Regions from separate parts of the Homo sapiens genome. Here region 2 is linked to region 1. The links come from fine-mapping of genetic effects on gene expression. A gene starts in region 1. The other region holds a variant in brackets. All regions are shown on one strand. Distances are between the middles of the regions. Region 1 holds the start of INTS10 (integrator complex subunit 10). Region 2 holds the start of LOC124901901 (a long non-coding RNA gene).

The links. PIP is the estimated chance that this variant, and not a neighbour inherited with it, causes the effect.
Region 2: its variant is fine-mapped to the expression of INTS10 in monocytes after interferon gamma (Fairfax 2014, PIP 0.95).

The regions. Positions count from the first base shown.
Region 1 is chr8:19,813,615-19,821,946 of GRCh38, forward strand. INTS10 (integrator complex subunit 10) reads left to right here and starts at 3,802. Exons shown (of 17, transcript NM_018142.4): 1 at 3,802-4,052; 2 at 4,661-4,728; 3 at 5,959-6,062; 4 at 6,765-6,904. The coding sequence starts at 3,924. RefSeq lists silencers at 3,383-3,522, 4,043-4,172 and enhancers at 3,673-3,752, 3,793-3,852, 4,353-4,442, 4,653-4,742.
Region 2 is chr8:19,846,901-19,855,232 of GRCh38, forward strand. INTS10 (integrator complex subunit 10) reads left to right here. Exons shown (of 17, transcript NM_018142.4): 17 at 4,749-5,167. The coding sequence ends at 4,905. LOC124901901 (a long non-coding RNA gene) reads left to right here and starts at 6,997. Exons shown (of 2, transcript XR_007060843.1): 1 at 6,997-8,213. The variant G/A (reference allele first, on the strand shown) is at 3,245.

The DNA of each region.
Region 1 (8,332 bases):
AGAGCTAGCTGCAAACCCCATGGAAGCACAATTATAAACCATCAAAGGGTTTTTAAGAATACATATACAGGCCAGGCGTGTTAGCTCATGCCTGTAATCCCAGCACTTCGGGAGGCTGAGGTGAGCGCATCACTTGAGGTCAGCAGTTCCAGAGCAGCCTGTCCATCATGGTGAAACTCTGTCTCTACTAAAATTCAAAAATTAGCCCGGTGTGTTGGCGCAAGGCTGTAGTCCCAGATACTCGGGAGGTTGAGCCAGAAGAATCACTTGAGCCTGGGAGGCAGAGGTTGCAGTGAGCTGAGGTCATGCCACTGCACTCCAGCCTGGGTGACAGAGCGAGACTCCCTCTCAAAAAAAAAAAAAAAAAAAAAAAAAAAAGAATACTTATCTGGGCCCATTGTGCTGGCTCATACCTGTAATCCCATCACTTTGGGAGGCCTATGCAGGAGGATTGCTTGAGCTTAGGAGTTCAAGACCAACCTAGGCAATATTATCAGACCCTATTGCTACAAAAAATTAAAAAATTAGCCAAGTGTGGTGGCACACGCCTGTAGTCCCAGCTACTTGGGAGGCTAAGCTGGGAGGATTGCTTGGGCCTGGAAGTTGAAGCTGCAGTGAGCCATGATCGTGCCACTGCACTCCAGCCTGAGTGACAGAGAAAGACACTGTTTAAAAACAACACAACGCAAAACAAAACAAAAACACATATATGACCAGATGTACAGTCTTGAAAGATAAATAGGGCTGTGGTATTCAAACTTGGAGTTTAAGGGCCGGGTGCGGTGGGTCATACCCGTAATGCCAGCAGTTTGGGATGCTGAGGAGGGTGGATGGCTTGAGGCCAGGAGTTTGAGACCAGCCTGGCCAACATGGCGAAAACTTGTCTGTACTAAAAACACAATAATTAGCCGTGTGTGGTGGCTTGTGCCTGTAATCTCAGCTACTCGGTAGGCTGAGGCACAAGAATGACTTGAACCGAGGATGAGGAGGTTGCAGTAAGCTGAGATTGCGCCACAGCACTCCAGCCTGGACGAGAGAGCAAGACTCTGTCTCAAAAAAAAAAAAAAAAATAGTGGATACAGTGGCAGGATAAGAAGGCAAAGACATGAACATATTGAATGTCTGAGCACAGGGTTTAGCATGAGTGGGAGAGGAATAAGCCCAAAGGGTGGCAGATGCACTTAGGGGAAAATGTAGGTGTCAAGGGGATAGAGGCCCATGAAGGTAAAATCAGGGAGAAGGGAAAGGAGGAAATTATTAAAAAGAACCAAGGAGAGAGTTGAGGGCAGGGAAGTTAAGAGGTTATGTGAGGAAACTTGGAGTTTGAAGATTTTGAAGTGGAAGGGGAAAAGCAATGTAGAGTTTAATTCAGATCACTGAACTGAGCTCACGGAAATTGAAGCCGGGTGCTGGATGCAGGGCATTTTATGTGACTTAGAAGTTGTCAAGGGCCGGCGTGGTGGTTCACACCTGTAATCCCAGCACTTTGGAAGGCCGAGGTGGGTGGATCACGAGGTCAGCAGTTCAAGACCAGCGTGATCAACATGGTGAAACCCCGTCTCTACTGAAAATACAAAAAAAAAATTAGCTGGGCATGGTGGCTGGCGCCTGTAATCTCAGCGACTTGGGATGCTGAGGCAGTAGAATCACTCGAAACCGGAAGGCAGAGGTTGCAGTGAGCTGAGATTGTGCCACTGCACTCTAGCCTGGACAATAAGAGCAAAACTCGTCTTTAAAAAAAAAAAAAAAAAAGTTGTCATGGAGAAGAACATGAGCTAGGCGCCTCAAGTCTCCAGTGAGTCAAGATCATGGCAAGGAGGCCAAAAGATGTAAACTCACTTGGTGTGTTACCTCCCTTCTGTACTTTGAGATGCCAGCATAACACTGTAGGAGAAATGTTTAGCTGGGGACCATTCAAAATCAAGAAGCTGACTAGAAAATAACCACAAACCTTACGTTGTATTCTGGCAAAAAGTCTAGAGGCCCTCTCAAGGTTGGCATCTAAAATACATACAGAGGCTGGGCGCAATGGCTCATGCCTGTAATCCGAGCACTTTGGGAGGCTGAAGCAGGAGGATCACTTGAGCCCAGGAGTTCAAGAACTGCCTGAGCAACATAGGGAGACTGTGTCTCTACAAAAAAATTTAAAATTAGCCAGATGTGGTGGCACACACCTGTAGTCCCAGCTACTCCACAGGCTGAGACAGGAGGATGGCTTGAGCCTGGGAGGTCAAGGCTGCAGTGATCCATGATCGAGCTGCTGCACTCACTGGCAGTCTGGATTTCAGAGCAAGACTGTGTCTCAAAAACAAACAAACAAACAAAAACAGAATTTCCTTATTTAGCCTCTAAATTTAAAATCTTAATTTACAATTGTTATTCCACAGAACACTAGGCTCAGGAACAAGTGTGGAGTTGTTTTTTTATTTTTGGTAAAGACCAAAACCAGAAAGTTTAATGACCAAATCAGTCATTTTTACCATTTGAAAATTCTTACACTTCATATATTAACATCAATGAAATAATTTTAACAATTCAAGCTAGCAATCTGCTTTTATGCTGTACACTTTATAACATAAAAATTATCCTACTCCGTTTAAATCCAATTTTCTACCATCTTCTATTCTACAAACCCAAAATAACTGTATCACTGAGTAATCCTGGCCCATAAAGTAATCATACAGTTATGCTGTTCTGTGCATAAGTAGGAGATATTAAACAGTGCTTCGAAGCCCAGCACGGTGGCTCATGCCTGTAATTTCAGCACTTTTGGGAGGCGAAGGAGGGCGGATCACCTGGGGTCGGGAGTTCCAGACCAGCCTGGCCAACATGGTGAAACCCCGTCTCTACTAAAAATACAAAAATTGGCCGGGCTAGCGCGTCGTGGTGGACGCCTGTAATCCCAGCCACTCGAGAGGCTGAGGCAAGAGAATCTCTTAGATGGAGAATCTCCTAGATGTTTTTCATCTCTTAGATGGAAAACAAATCTGGAGTTTTGGTGAAAAGGACATTGATTGTGGCTGGAGGAGATAATTATAATAATAGCGTAGTTATCTTTCTGTGGGTTTCACGTCCAGAACATTTAAAACATATAAAACCCTTGCTGGGTCAGGGTTTTAGTCATCTTTGCAGCTCCCACGGACGGCATCCACCAAAGCGCTTTCCAAGTACTTCGTTGCTCAATAAACGTTTGTTGGAGAAACCGGTGCATAAAGGTGAAATAATAAAACGTGGACGGATTTCGGAAAGAGAAGGAACCCCGGAGCTCACGCTTTGCACGATCACCCCCACCAGCCCCAGGAGTTTTCGCGTAAATCGAAGCCCGGGGAGTGAGTCGCAGGCAGCGGCCCCCGGGGAAGGTGTTTCAGGCCGGCCCGGGTGGAGAGTGCTTCCCGCCGCCTCCCCGACCCTCTGCTGTTCCTCTCAAACTTCTTCTCAACCTTCCACGCCGGGGGGACGCCCAGGGACCGCCCATTCCCCGGGACCGCCCGTCTCCCCGCCCCCGCCTCCGCCCCCGCCCCCGACAAACTGAGCAATACCCAGAGAGGATGGAAATGGCGAAGAGGCCTGGCGCCTGCCCGCTCCCGCGCATGCTCCCTGACTTCACCAAGGTCACGCTGCAGCCCGCAGGAATGAAAATCCACTTCTCCGCATTTTCGAGGTGACCTGGAAGCGGTTCAACTGCTCTGGCTTCTCAGAAGAGGAGGGGACCGGGCGGTAACGAGGAGCCAAGGGGAGGAGACTGCTCGCAAAACCCGGAAAAGCTTTCCCGATCCACTCTGCCAGCCTCCGTGCGCCTCCAGACATGCGCAGTAGCCTCCCCCGCGGTGGCGGCGGCGGCGGCGGTGGCTGCCGTGGCGGCTGAGAGTCCAGAGCCGGACGTTCCGGCCGCTTCGGGCTGGCGGCTGGAGAGCGCTCGGGTCATGTCTGCCCAGGGGGACTGCGAGTTCCTGGTGCAGCGAGCCCGGGAGTTGGTGCCGCAAGACCTGTGGGCAGCCAAGGCGTGGCTGATCACGGCCCGCAGCCTCTACCCGGCAGACTTTAACATCCAGGTGAGGTCCCGGCTGTGCATGCGGCCGCTCTGCGTGGAGGTGCGCGCTCCCGTCGCCCGGGCTGCCCTGGCCCAGAGCTGCGCCTGCCTGGGGGCTGCCGCCTCCTGCCCGGCCCCCTGCTTTCTCCCCTCCCACCCCCTCCTCTCTCCCCTCCCATCCTACACCTTGCTCCTACACCTTTCACCCGCCTTGCTCCTACACCTTCCAGGAGCCCTCTCCCCAGCACTTGAGAGACGGCCGATCCCGCTTGAGGTCGGGTGTGCTTAGGTCCCTGGGGCTCAGCGTGCCATCTGGCCTAGACAGCACATGATCGCCACTAGCAAAAGGCCATTCGCTCCTTCATTCATCATAATGGCAGCAGTTTGTTCAGGGCCTGCGACTTTGGAAATATTATCCTACTTAATCCTGGGAGCCTGAGATTGCAGGTGAACCCCAGGGTCACACTCTAAGCCCAATGGCAAGTCTGCCATGTATGTGGCGCTGTGTCACCAGGCGGAGCTTCACTCTCAGGCCCTCCCTTCCTGCAGGAGGGCCAACGAGCGATGCTGGATGAGCTGGGAGCCTTCTGGGCAGGGGTGAGTGACCAGGGTGCCTGATGTGTGTTGCAGTATGAGATGTACACCATCGAGCGGAATGCAGAGCGGACCGCCACCGCCGGGAGGCTGCTGTACGACATGTGAGTGGGACGCTTGACATCACTTTTACTGCACTGAATCTCTCCATGAGGTTTTGTTTCTCTCTGCAGAAGTGGGAGTTGGGGGAAGATCTTCAAGTTCATCTATATCTTCGATACCTAAAGCAAACCTAGTAAGGAGTCCAGGCCTGCCATAAATTGCTGACATGGCTTTTGCAGAAGAGTTTAATTATTATTCTTATGTTTTATCCTTGTTAAAACTTCTGTTTCATAATTTATTCTAGAAATAATATGTGCTCATTACAAAAATTCAAACACTACTTGTTATAGAGAACAAAAAGTGAAAGTGCATCCTAAACTGAACCAGAGTTAAGTTTTGTAGGCAGTATATCTATACATGTATGCATAATACATAAATAAGGTTTTGGGGGGAAGGGGTTACAAAAGTGAGAAGACCATACTACCTTTGCCCTGCAGCATGTTTCCTTTACTCACTCTCATGGACCCCTTCCCATATCAGTATGTAGAGATCCACTTCATTCCTTTTCATGCCTGTGTAGTATTTCGTAGACACTCTCTTCTTGGTAGACATTTAAATAGATAGTTTTAAATTATTTGAAATTATATTCAGTGTGTCAACAATTTTGTAGTCATATTTTGGTGTTTTTCTGTGGAATAGATTCTAAGACATTTTCATAGTCAAAGTTTATGCGCATTTGAAAATTTGATACGCTATGAAATTACTCTCCAAAATGTGCGATCCCAGTCTACATTACCACCAATGGTGTATAAAGAGTGTGTTTTCCCATACCCTTCCCAACACTGGATATTATTAGTCTCTTTTTAGTTCTTGTCACTGTGATAGGAGAAAATGGTATCTTGCTATTTTAAAAAAAAATTTGTACTACTCATACTGTTAATAAGATTCAGTATTGTTTCAACTGTTCTCTTTGGCTGTGTGTATTCTGTGATTTGCCTTTGCCTATTTTTTCTTTCAAATAGTTTGTTTTATTCTTGTTGACTTTTAGAAGCTCTTTCTATGTTATGGTTACTTGTCTTTTCACCTATAAAACCCACTAAAGACTTATGTGAGTACTCTCATTTTTATAAATCAAGTAATTCTTATTTTTACATTTTTATTTTGGTTTGTTTTGGCACGTCTAAGCATTCACTTGGAATAAAGGAAACTTTTTCACCAAATGCTAACGTTTTTTCTTTTGGATACTGTATAGACTTTGACATTTTAATTTAATGTATTTATTTTAAAAATAGGTTTGTGAATTTCCCAGACCAGCCGGTGGTGTGGAGAGAAATCAGCATTATTACATCAGCATTAAGGAACGATTCACAGGACAAACAAACCCAATTTTTAAGAAGTAAGAATAATGGTGTATAAGTTACCATTTCGGGAATACCAAATCATATATAGTAATTTCACACACAAAAAAGTCACACCTGGGGTATTGGTAACCATATGTATGTTTTATTCTTGGCAACCAAAGTCTATAATAATGTCACTCGGTTCCTTGACTTGCTTAGAACCCTTTAAGCTTCTTTAAAGGATATGGATTTATCAGTGAGACGAGGAATTAATTGTATATATTTTTAACAGGTTTTACAATAACCAGATAGCAGCTATAGATTAACCAGCTCTCCACAAAACAGGAGAGAAGCTTTTAGTAATTTAGAAGCTTTCTCTTTAAACTTCTGTATGTTGCTGTAGTCAATCAAAGATTTCAAACTCTAGATAAAATAGCAAGTAGATGCATAGGTCATTTGAACTTCAACAAGCACATGCTCTCTATCTCAACCTGCAACAGGCATTCTTGTGACCATTCACATACATCATTGTTTTTTGAATTTGATCAGTCTTGCAAATATTTTACCATTATTCAGCAAACATCCTGTGCCAGATACTATTGGCTCCAAAAGGCTGCCAGGTTGTAGGTGAAACTTAACTGCATTGATTTCACATGTAGTGTTTACTGTTCTGTACATGAAAATGCCTTACTCAGCACTGTTGCTGCAGTCTTTTCTGTCCGCAAGAAACTTTTAAAAGTGAAATATGTTTCGTACAGGTTTATTTGAAACTCTTCCTGGTCGGGTCCAGTGTGAAATGTTACTAAAGGTCACGGAACAATGCTTCAACACGTTAGAACGATCAGAAATGTTGCTTCTACTTTTGAGGCGCTTCCCTGAAACGGTGGTGCAGCATGGGGTGAGATTTGATTCTTCCCCTTCTTTTAATATAAAATACAATGGGTCATCAACAGATTCATCGGTATGGTGAGGAGCTACAAAGCAGAAGTTTCTGAAGAGTACTGGTTAAGATTGAACTGAAATAGAAGGTTCTTTGTTAGTAAAGCTAAAAGGACATTCTTTTCACCATATTTTGTAAGTTTCCAGGAGAAGCTGTTTTATCAGGAAAATCACCAAGCTCTGACAGTACTGTTTATTGCAATCCATATGGTAAAAAGTAATCTTTTTCCGTTGTATTCTACAATGTGCTTTTGAATTTAGCGTAGAGTTTATAGTCTTAACAGATGCGTTTTTCCTGTGCTTCTGCCCTATGGAGACTATTTTCATTCTATTCCTGCCCCTTTCCTTCATCTGTAATAATTATCGAGTGCTATTGGCAGGCATGGGAAAGTGCTAGGTATCTCCTATCTTCCTAAATCCCCTGAAGTAAATAGTATCCCACTTTACAGATGACGAAACTGAGCATTTTGTGTTTTAGTAACTTCCCATAGCCAGTGAGGTGTCAGGTTTCAAACCATTCACTCCATTCGTTCATACTCTGCGGCTTATTTCCCATGCCATTTTCTGGCGTCTGGCCCGGGTTAATCATTTCCATACCTGCTTGTGTTAGTCTCCTAGGGTTGCCATAACAAAGTACTACAAACTGGGTAGCTTAAAACAACAGAAGGACTCCCACAATTCTGGAAGCTAGAAGTCTAAAAGTCAGGTGTTGGCAGAGGCACTTTCCCTCTGAAGGTTCTGGGGAAGAATCTTTCTTTACCTCTCCCTGGCTTCTGATGGTTGTCAGCAATCTTTGGCATTCCCTGGCAGGCAGCTTCATCACTCCTCCAATTTCTGCTCCATCACCACATGATCTTCTTTCTTTTGTGCCTTTGTCTTTACATGGCCTTTTTTGTCGTTGTTTTTTGAGGCAGAGTCTTGCTCCGTTGCCCAGGCAGCAGTGCAGTGGCATGATCTTGGCTCACTGCATCCTCTGCCTCCTGGGTTCTACCAATTCTCATGCCACAGCCTCCTGAGTAGCTGGGATTACAGGTGTGTGTACATGGCCATGTTATAAGGACACTAGTCATTGGATTGAGGGCCTTTCTAATCCACCATGACCTCATCTTAATTAATTATATCTACAAAGATACTTTTTTTAAAAAAAAAGGTAAGATGTCTATGAGGTCACATTCTGAGGTTCTGCGGGGATATGAATTTGGGGGGGCACTGTTCAGCCCAGCACACTTTCTGGTCATAACTCTGACCTTTCACCTTCTGTGTGATGTAATCTTTCGCACTTTTCCACTCCTGTGGTGCATCCCTGTGTGGTCACAAGGAAGTTGATACCAGTGTCTTGGTGGATTTGAGTAAGGGACCGTCTACTATGCTAAGGCATTGGTAATGG
Region 2 (8,332 bases), 33 kb after region 1:
CAAGAGACTGAATCCTGAATGAGAAGAAAGTACTGCTAAAACTAAAAACATTTTTCTTTTTCCCTCAGTTGTGGAATAAACTAGTTTTCAGTGGTTGAAAGCAAAAATCCACATCTTGTTCTATCTTGATAGTCTTAGAAGTGCCTAGGGAAAGAAGTAAGAAATGTTCATTTTAGATTTCTGTAACCTCAGTAGTTTGCTGGTAGCAAACATTTCTTTTTGTGTCTAGCAAGAATAGGGTCTTGTGGACTCCATTCTCAAGAATGGAAAGATTAAGTGGTTTTTTCTCCTTCATCTTATAAGTGTTATTAAATTATAAACTTTTAAAATAAAAGAACAGTGCTCTTTTTAAAAATACACGAGACCTTTCTGCATTGGTTTGCTTAAGCAGGATGGACAAGGACTGGCATCTTCCAATCCCCATTTACTTTTCTAAGATCGTGAATCGAAACTTTGGGAAGAATAACTATGTTGTTCAAAATATTCTTAACAGTGTTTGGGGATAAAGATTACCTTTGGATACGGAAGCCCAGGTAACCCCTTTTGTATTGTGATTTGTTTTCTAGACTTTGAAACTGGATATACAAATACACCCTGAATCAAGCTTTTTAGTTAATTCCCATCAGCAGTCACTATACGAGTTAATATAGAGACAGCCATAGTGGAACCGAAGTCTGTGTACATAGGATTAAACCTGCAGATGATTATCACTTTACCTAGATAATGCCTAACTGTTAGTGCAGGTGTGAGAGATGGATTGTCAAAAAATCAACAGTTGAACCTCAGACTTCATTGTACTGAACCTTTCTTCTTCTACCAGTTTTTACTGAGCTGAAGAGTGACATAAGTCCAAGTGGACAAACCCTAGGATGAGGAATGAGAGCAAGGGGAGTGTTGGGTACCAGCTAGTATCACAGGGAAGAGTGTTTGGAGTTGTTTGTGTAAAGGATACCCATCATGCACTTCTAACTAGTGAGGGAGAACTCCAGGGTCTCCCACCTTGATCAATACAACCCTTAATTTCTTCTAACTTTCTATAGAAGACAAGCCTCTTAGGAAGGCTGCAGTTTCATCAGTTTGGAAGCAGGAATAGGGATTATTCCTTAGTGATCTGACCTCGTAGGGATTTGCCCAGTCTTCACTGTGTGAATCTCAAGGTTAATTACTTATGCCTAAATTAACATGGTAGAAAGCACACTGCTTAAGCCAGAGAGCTCTTCCTAACTGAGGAATGGTTGGAATCTTTATTAAACAATCTGAATTCCTTTTCCCTTTGGGTTCCAAACAAGTTTTCTGAAGCCATTACAGACCTTTTGGGTGGTCCCTCCAGATGAGTGGCAGAGATGTTGTGAGCAGTGTACACTTCTCCCCGGGGGTAAGGCTGTGAGTCTGCCCTAGCTGTGGCATCTGGGATGCAAGCAGGTACAGTACCAACACTGAGGGCACCCGGTGCTTCACTCAAAGGAGGGAGAAGCTCTTAATCTGTTATACAGACCTTTTGCTCTTAAGTATTTTAAAATAGAGAAATGTTTCTGTGCTGATAAATGCAGTATCTTAGTTGTATTAGAGTGGATTAAAATGGAAAACAATGTCCTACTTATACTCTGAATAGGGTGGATAATAATGTTCTATGAGGTGATCACCAGCTAATACACTAAATCTTTGTTGTTACAGAATTCTGCACAGCCATGGGTCCCGGACTCTTATTTTCCCCCATCTGTTCTCAATACGTTTTTGAAATTGAAACTCACCCTTTTTTTAAATCAAAAACATTGCCAGACCATTTAGTCCTCTTGGAAGGGCCTCTCCGGTGGGGCTTCAGTCCTGTTAAAGATGGTTACCAGACATCACCAGGTTGAATGCTGGGACTGGTGTACCGTGAGAAGAGTGGAAAGTAAAGAGGCTGGCTTTGAAAATGTGTCTTCTCAAAGGCTGCCCCTACTCCCTATTGCCATTCAGCTGCATTCCATCATCCTCTTCCTCACTGGTCGCTTTTTATACCACCTCAAAAGGGGGCTGAGCTCTGGGACCAGGAACTGAGACGCCTCTGGACACGCACCAGCAGCAGCGGGTGCAGTGAGGGCTGGCTAGCTTCTCCCCAGTCTCCTTAAACACCCAGCCACGGCCAGGGGCTTGTTGAGGTTAATGAGTTTCTGTTTAGTCTGCTTCTAGTCTTGTGTATTTTCTCTGGAGTGTTGTTTTTGCAGTGCAGGGTGAGTCGGTGTGGGTGTTTGAATGCTGCTGTTTGCTGTTTTTTAAAGGCCTTCTAGCCCTCCCATGGGGTTACTGCAGCAGGAATTCTTACCTGTGCTTCAGCCCAGCATACAGACTGCTGACAGGTACCAAGTGGAATCAACGCCCGCTCATAGTGTGCTGTTTGTCAACATGTTCGCTGCCCATGGTTCTCAGCTCTTCGTTCCTCAGTGCTCTTTTTCATGCTTTCTTTCTTTTTTAATTTGTTCCGCATTTTGGCAAACCATCTGGTTGTAATATTGTAACATTTCTTATTTTTTTTCCATAAGTTGCCAGTGTGTTTGTGTTCGATTTAAAAATCATTATGGATCTGGAAAAAACAATGAAAGCTATATAAATCTGTATTCAATTAAGTGCACATTAGCTTAGGTGCACCATGATTCTCTTTTGATAAAACGTTAAGGCTTTCGGTCATATATATTTAAGGATGCTGACGTTTATTTTAAGTACATTTTTATTTGTGGATACTCATATGAGTGACCAGTCATTATGGTCATATTAGCAATTAGTTGCCTGGTATCTAAATAGGCACTAATGTGTTTTTTTTCCTGCTACTGATGTTTTTTCAGACCTTACCTTTCTGAATTGAAAATATTTGATAGGCTAAAATGCCACATTTATTAGCTGGTTTATCCTGTTCTTAAACCACAAAAGCTTACTAATTCTCTTTTTCATCCAAACTTACCAAAGTGATAGTGCTTCTAATAGAAATATAATTGAATTGTGCCACTCTTTATATATGGAGATAATACAAATTGGACCCTGATCTGCAGGATGTAGCATTTAGTTATATTTTTAGTGGTATTAAAAGCAGGGTTTATTAGCCAGGCCTGGTGGCATATGCCTGTAATCCCAGCTACTCGGGAGGCTGAGGCACAAGAATTGCTTGAACCCAGGAGGCAGAGGTGGCAGTGAGCTGAGATCATTGCCACTGCACTTCAGCCTGGGTGACACAGCAAGATAGCAAGATGCCATCTCAAAAAAAAAAAAA[G/A]AAAGAAAGAAAGAAAAAAAAAGGAGGGTTTGCCCTTTAGCTAACTGTCTGCAAGTGCCAGTAACCTCCGCTTGGTCAGAGGGTCAGCTCCAGTTTGAGGCTGCAGCCTGGGACCCAGAAGAGCAGTATCTCAGGGCAGCATAAATGGTTTGCATCTATCCTAGCGGGACCTCACCGATGCTATGTCCTAACTACTGAGCTACCCATCCAGATTTGACGAGAGATAGTCACAAAGAAGTGTGCATTTACCCCACGGCCCTGCTGTTTTCCCCTGTAGTTCTTTAAAACATCCATGGGCATTAGAAGGTTCTGTGATAGCTTTACTTATCTAACAAAGCTGGATTTTTTTTTTCTTTTCATCTGTTGTTTTACAATTTGGTGACTCCTGTTGTCCTTATTTGATATGATCATTAATACAAGTTTTTAAAAACAGAAACATTTTAGAGTAATTTTAACACTTTTATCTTGCCCAGAACATAAAAAAATCTTCATTTTCAATCCTTATAACTTTGTGTGAGGGAAATTAGGCATCAGGGTGGGAAACAGAGGTGACTTTTATTTGTCTAAGTCTACCAAATTGCTGAACTAGTAGGTAAAACTCCCTTCCTCTTAACTGAGCTGACTGATTTTTGCTAGATTTTTCTTTTCGTTTCTTCATTTTGTTTCTTCCGTTTCCTGGGATTTCATGTGTGATTTCTTTTTCTAAAGCACAACCTTTGGGGTGTAGTTAAGAGACATTTTTCCCTGTGTCCCCACCACCCCTTCCACACATGTGCAGGTCTCCCCTGAGTGCCCAGACAGCGCAGGACCACGCAGTCCACTCCCTCTGCCCCTCAGAGATTCTGCCTCTCTCTCCTGACCTGTGCCACATTCTTGTGTCAGGACCCCACCTCCCGCTGCGTTTTCTTCAACATATGAGAGTCTAGATGGGCACAGCATTTAGAGGAGCTGCCCTATTCTGGTGTCCTGGGGAGAGAGACGTGCTTGTGACCCCGGCTGTGCAGGAGCCCTGAACCTTTCTGGGAGCACCAGCTGCGGGGGCCATGGTGGGAGCTCACTTGGGTGATTGGCTCATTCAGGTCTCCTCCCTCCTTGCTGCTGCCTCTGGAGGGTCTGCTGGCCGGGCTGGACATGAGCTCTTTGTAGCCAGTGTGGACTGGACCCATTTGGCCCTAAGTAACTGAATTGTGTACCAGTCAGCAGTAGGGATGCATAACACCAGAGCTTCATTGATTCAAAGGCAAAGCAGGTGGCATTTTACTGAACAATTAAATGTTTGAAGTAACCTTTTATAGAGTGAGAAAGATGTCTGTCTAGTTTTAAGTCTTTCTGAAGAGAAATGGGCTGGAATGTTTGGTTGGTTGCAGCTATTCTTGTGTTCTTTTTAAAATATCTGAAATTATACTTAGATATGGGGCAGGCTTTATTCCTACCCAAGTAGCAGCGATCAGCGATGCTGGTGCTAACCCCTGGTCTTTGTCTGTTTCCCTATTGCTGACCTCAGGCACCACACTGTAACTCGAGGCATCACCAAAGGCGTGAAGGAGGACTTTCGCCTGGCCATGGAGCGCCAGGTCTCCCGCTGTGGAGAGAATCTGATGGTGGTTCTGCACAGGTTCTGCATTAATGAGAAGATCTTGCTCCTTCAGACTCTGACCTGAGTGGAGACCTTTCCACCAGACACAGCTCGGGCCTGTGTAATTGTAGGAGAAGACACTCAGCAGTGATTGCCATGGCACAGAGCCGTGGTCATTGTTGCTGTTACAAAGAAGAAAACCATCTGAGTTCTAACTCCTTGGTTGCTTAAAAGTAGTTCCCAAGAGTCTGAGAAGCTATTTCTATTTTTAAGAGTCATTTTTTGTAATTTTTGTAAAACAAAAGTACCAATCTGTTTTGTAAATAAAAATCATCCTAAAATTTGAAGTTTTTAAAAATTTAATTCTTATGAGTTTTTGAACAGGGGTGCATTTTTCTTCTTTTCTAAGCATATAGCAAGGGGGAAAATCCAGCATAATTGAATTGAGTAATGAATTTTACTAATATAGATACTTACTTAAAAGACATATGTCTTCCATGACCTTAAGATTTTATTTTCCATAGTTAGGCTTTGGTCGGTATTGCATATCAACATAATATTAGACGTTTTCATTCAGGTGATCTCTTTTTTAGAAACAAGGTCTCACTCTACACCCAGGTTAGAGTGCAGTGGCACGATCATAACTCACTGCAGCCTCAAACTCCTGGCCTCAAGCAATCCTCCTGCCTCCAACCTCCCAAGTAGCTGGGACTACAAGTATACACCACCATGCTCAGCTATTTTTTTTTAATTTTATGTAGAGACAGGGTCTCACTATGTTACTCAGGTGGGTCTCAAACATCTGGCCTCCAGCAATCCCACCTCAGCCTCCCAAAGTGTTGGTATAACAGGCATGAGCCACCATACCTGGCCTCATTCGGGAAGTTTTAACACCAAAAACATTTATGTAAAAATGAATTTGAGCCTGACCTCTCCCACTGATGGTCCCCTGAAGGAGAGGTGCTCAGGGCTGCTGAAAAGCCCAGGACAGGAAGTGGAGGTGAGAGGCAAGGTGTGGCAGAGCAGCCTCCCCATTGCTGTCTGGCTCCAGGAAGTCCCTGCTGCTGTGCCAGGGTGGCCCAGTGGTTTCTACCCAGGGGCTTTGGAGCCAGGTGGCCTTGTGTGGCTTTGCATCCTGGCTTTGCCCTGCCCTTACTTGCTATGTGACCGTGGACAAGGTAACTTCTGTGTGCCTCAAGCTCTTTGTCTGAAAACGGAGCTGAGTGGTCCTCCCCTTGCTGGTTATTGGGAGGATGAAATGTTGCTCCACGTGAAATGCTTGGGAGAGGGCCTTGAGTGTAGTTAGTGCTGGCCAACATTAGCTATTAGGCTAATTTTTTTTTTTAATTAGGCTAATTTTATTTTCCTTTTGCTCTTCATGAAATTATACAGAAGACAAACATCAATAAAATTTGTTTCAAGGGAGTATTTAAGAATGAAAGAGCTAAGAAGTTTTGCAGTTACTCTGCATAAAAGGTCTTAGAAATCTTTTCTAAATAAAGATCCTTTTTATAGCTATATTAAAATCAATAAGATGGTTTAAATAAGAGACATCTGATCTCAAAAATATCAACTAGCTTGTTTTGCAGTGTTTATTAGTGTAATATGAGTTTATTACAAATATATAAGCTATCCTTTTTTTAGTGATGGGATGTGCTGCCACCTAAAAGCTCCCAAATTAAACACTCTCACCTTTAGGTTTTCTAACACTATTAGGGTTCTTCAGAGGGACCGAACTATTGGATAGATGTATATATGAAAGGGAGTTTGTTAAGGAGAATTAGCTGACATGATCAGAAGGTGAAGCTCCACAGCAGGCCGTCTGCGAGCCAAGGAAGAAGGAAGCCCACAGTGGCTCAGTCCAAGTCCAAAAGCCTCAAAAGCAGGGAGGCCAACAGTGCATCCTTCAGTCTGTGGCCAAAGGCCCGAGAGCCCATGACCAACCACTGGTGTAAGTCCAAGAGTCCAAAGGCCAAAGAACCTGGAGTCTGATGTCCAAAGGCAGGAAGCATCCAGCACGGGAGAAAGATGAAAGCCAGAAGACTCAGCAAGTCAGCTTATCCCACCTTCCGCCTACTTTGTTCTACCCTCGCTGGTGTCTACCCAGCTTGAGGGTGGGTCTTTCTCTCCCGATCCATTGACTCAAATGTTAATCTCCTCTGGCAAAAGCCTCACAGACACACCCAGAAACAATACCAGCTATCTAGGCATCCTTCAATGCAATCAAGTTGACACCTAATATTAACCATCACGAACAGCTTCCTCAGCTCAGTGTTTCAGGAGCAGTGCACATCACAACAAGACTTTCTAATACCCCAAAATGTAGGTACTAGCTAAAAGAGGATTAACCATCTTTTTTAAAATTCAGTGGTGCCACTTCTCTGTGAAGAGGCTGCAGGGAAAGGGCCACAGAATAAAATGGAAACTCAGACTGAATTTGCAGAAAAAGAAGGAGCTGGGAGAAAACTGCAGACCTCTCAGCACATAATGGCTCCATCCAAATCGCTGCACTAAGAGACCTGACCAAACTCTAGCTTGGCTACCAGCAGCTTAAGGCCATGACCCCAGTCCCGCTTAAAATGCCTGCCTGAGAAAGCTCCATGCTACCAAAATTTATTCCAGACCAAACCAGGTGATAGGCAGATAGGCCCCTGGACTCTCGCTTAGAATAGTTACTTTAAAAAGGTTGCAATTACACATCCTTTGCCCTTTGAGATGCAAAGTGACCCCCCAGAGCTGTTTTCTCAAGAACCCAAGAGCTGGCTTTTTGAAATCCATTCAGGGAATCAACTCTTGCTCCCAGTCCCTGTGACAGGGAACATTTGAGCTGGGTTTGGACCACTGTAACATTTAGACTCCTACAGGAGATGTACTGTTGCCATGGCAATCCTGCTCCCTAACAAAGGAACTGCAGGCTCAGGCTTTTGGTGTCTGCTTGTCTGAGTAACGAATGAGGCAAAGCTACCATCGGGATGACCTTAAGGCAGGCAGAAGATACAGCGGTGCATAGGAGGCTTGACTGACCTTGGATATCTCGTCCCAGACATTCCCCTCACCTGGCAGCGGGGTGCACCCTGCGTGCACAGCATCCTCCTCCTACGCTTAGGTCCATCTGGATGTAGAGTCCCTCCTGGGAAAAGGGGAACTGCCAGAAAGAGACACCTGCCCCTCACTCGTCACCAAATGCAGGTTCCTGGGGAAAATGATGCTAGTAAGACCTGCCTCTGGGTTTCCTAAGCAGCAGAACAGCTCCCTCGCTGCAATCCATTGAAAGTCAGTCCTGGACACCAGGGTTTGTCCACCCATATGGAGGCTCCAAGCATCTATGCATCCATCCCTCTCGATCCCTAGGACTTCGGACCCGGAGCCACACTGTGGGGCGGCAGTGATCAGGTACCCTCCTGGCAACCCGACTCAATGCCCCGCCTCCTCGCCACCCTGCCAGGATGCACCCTGGGCTGGGACAAAGTTGGGGAGCGGTGGGGATAGCAGAGATGGATGGGTAGCCCCCT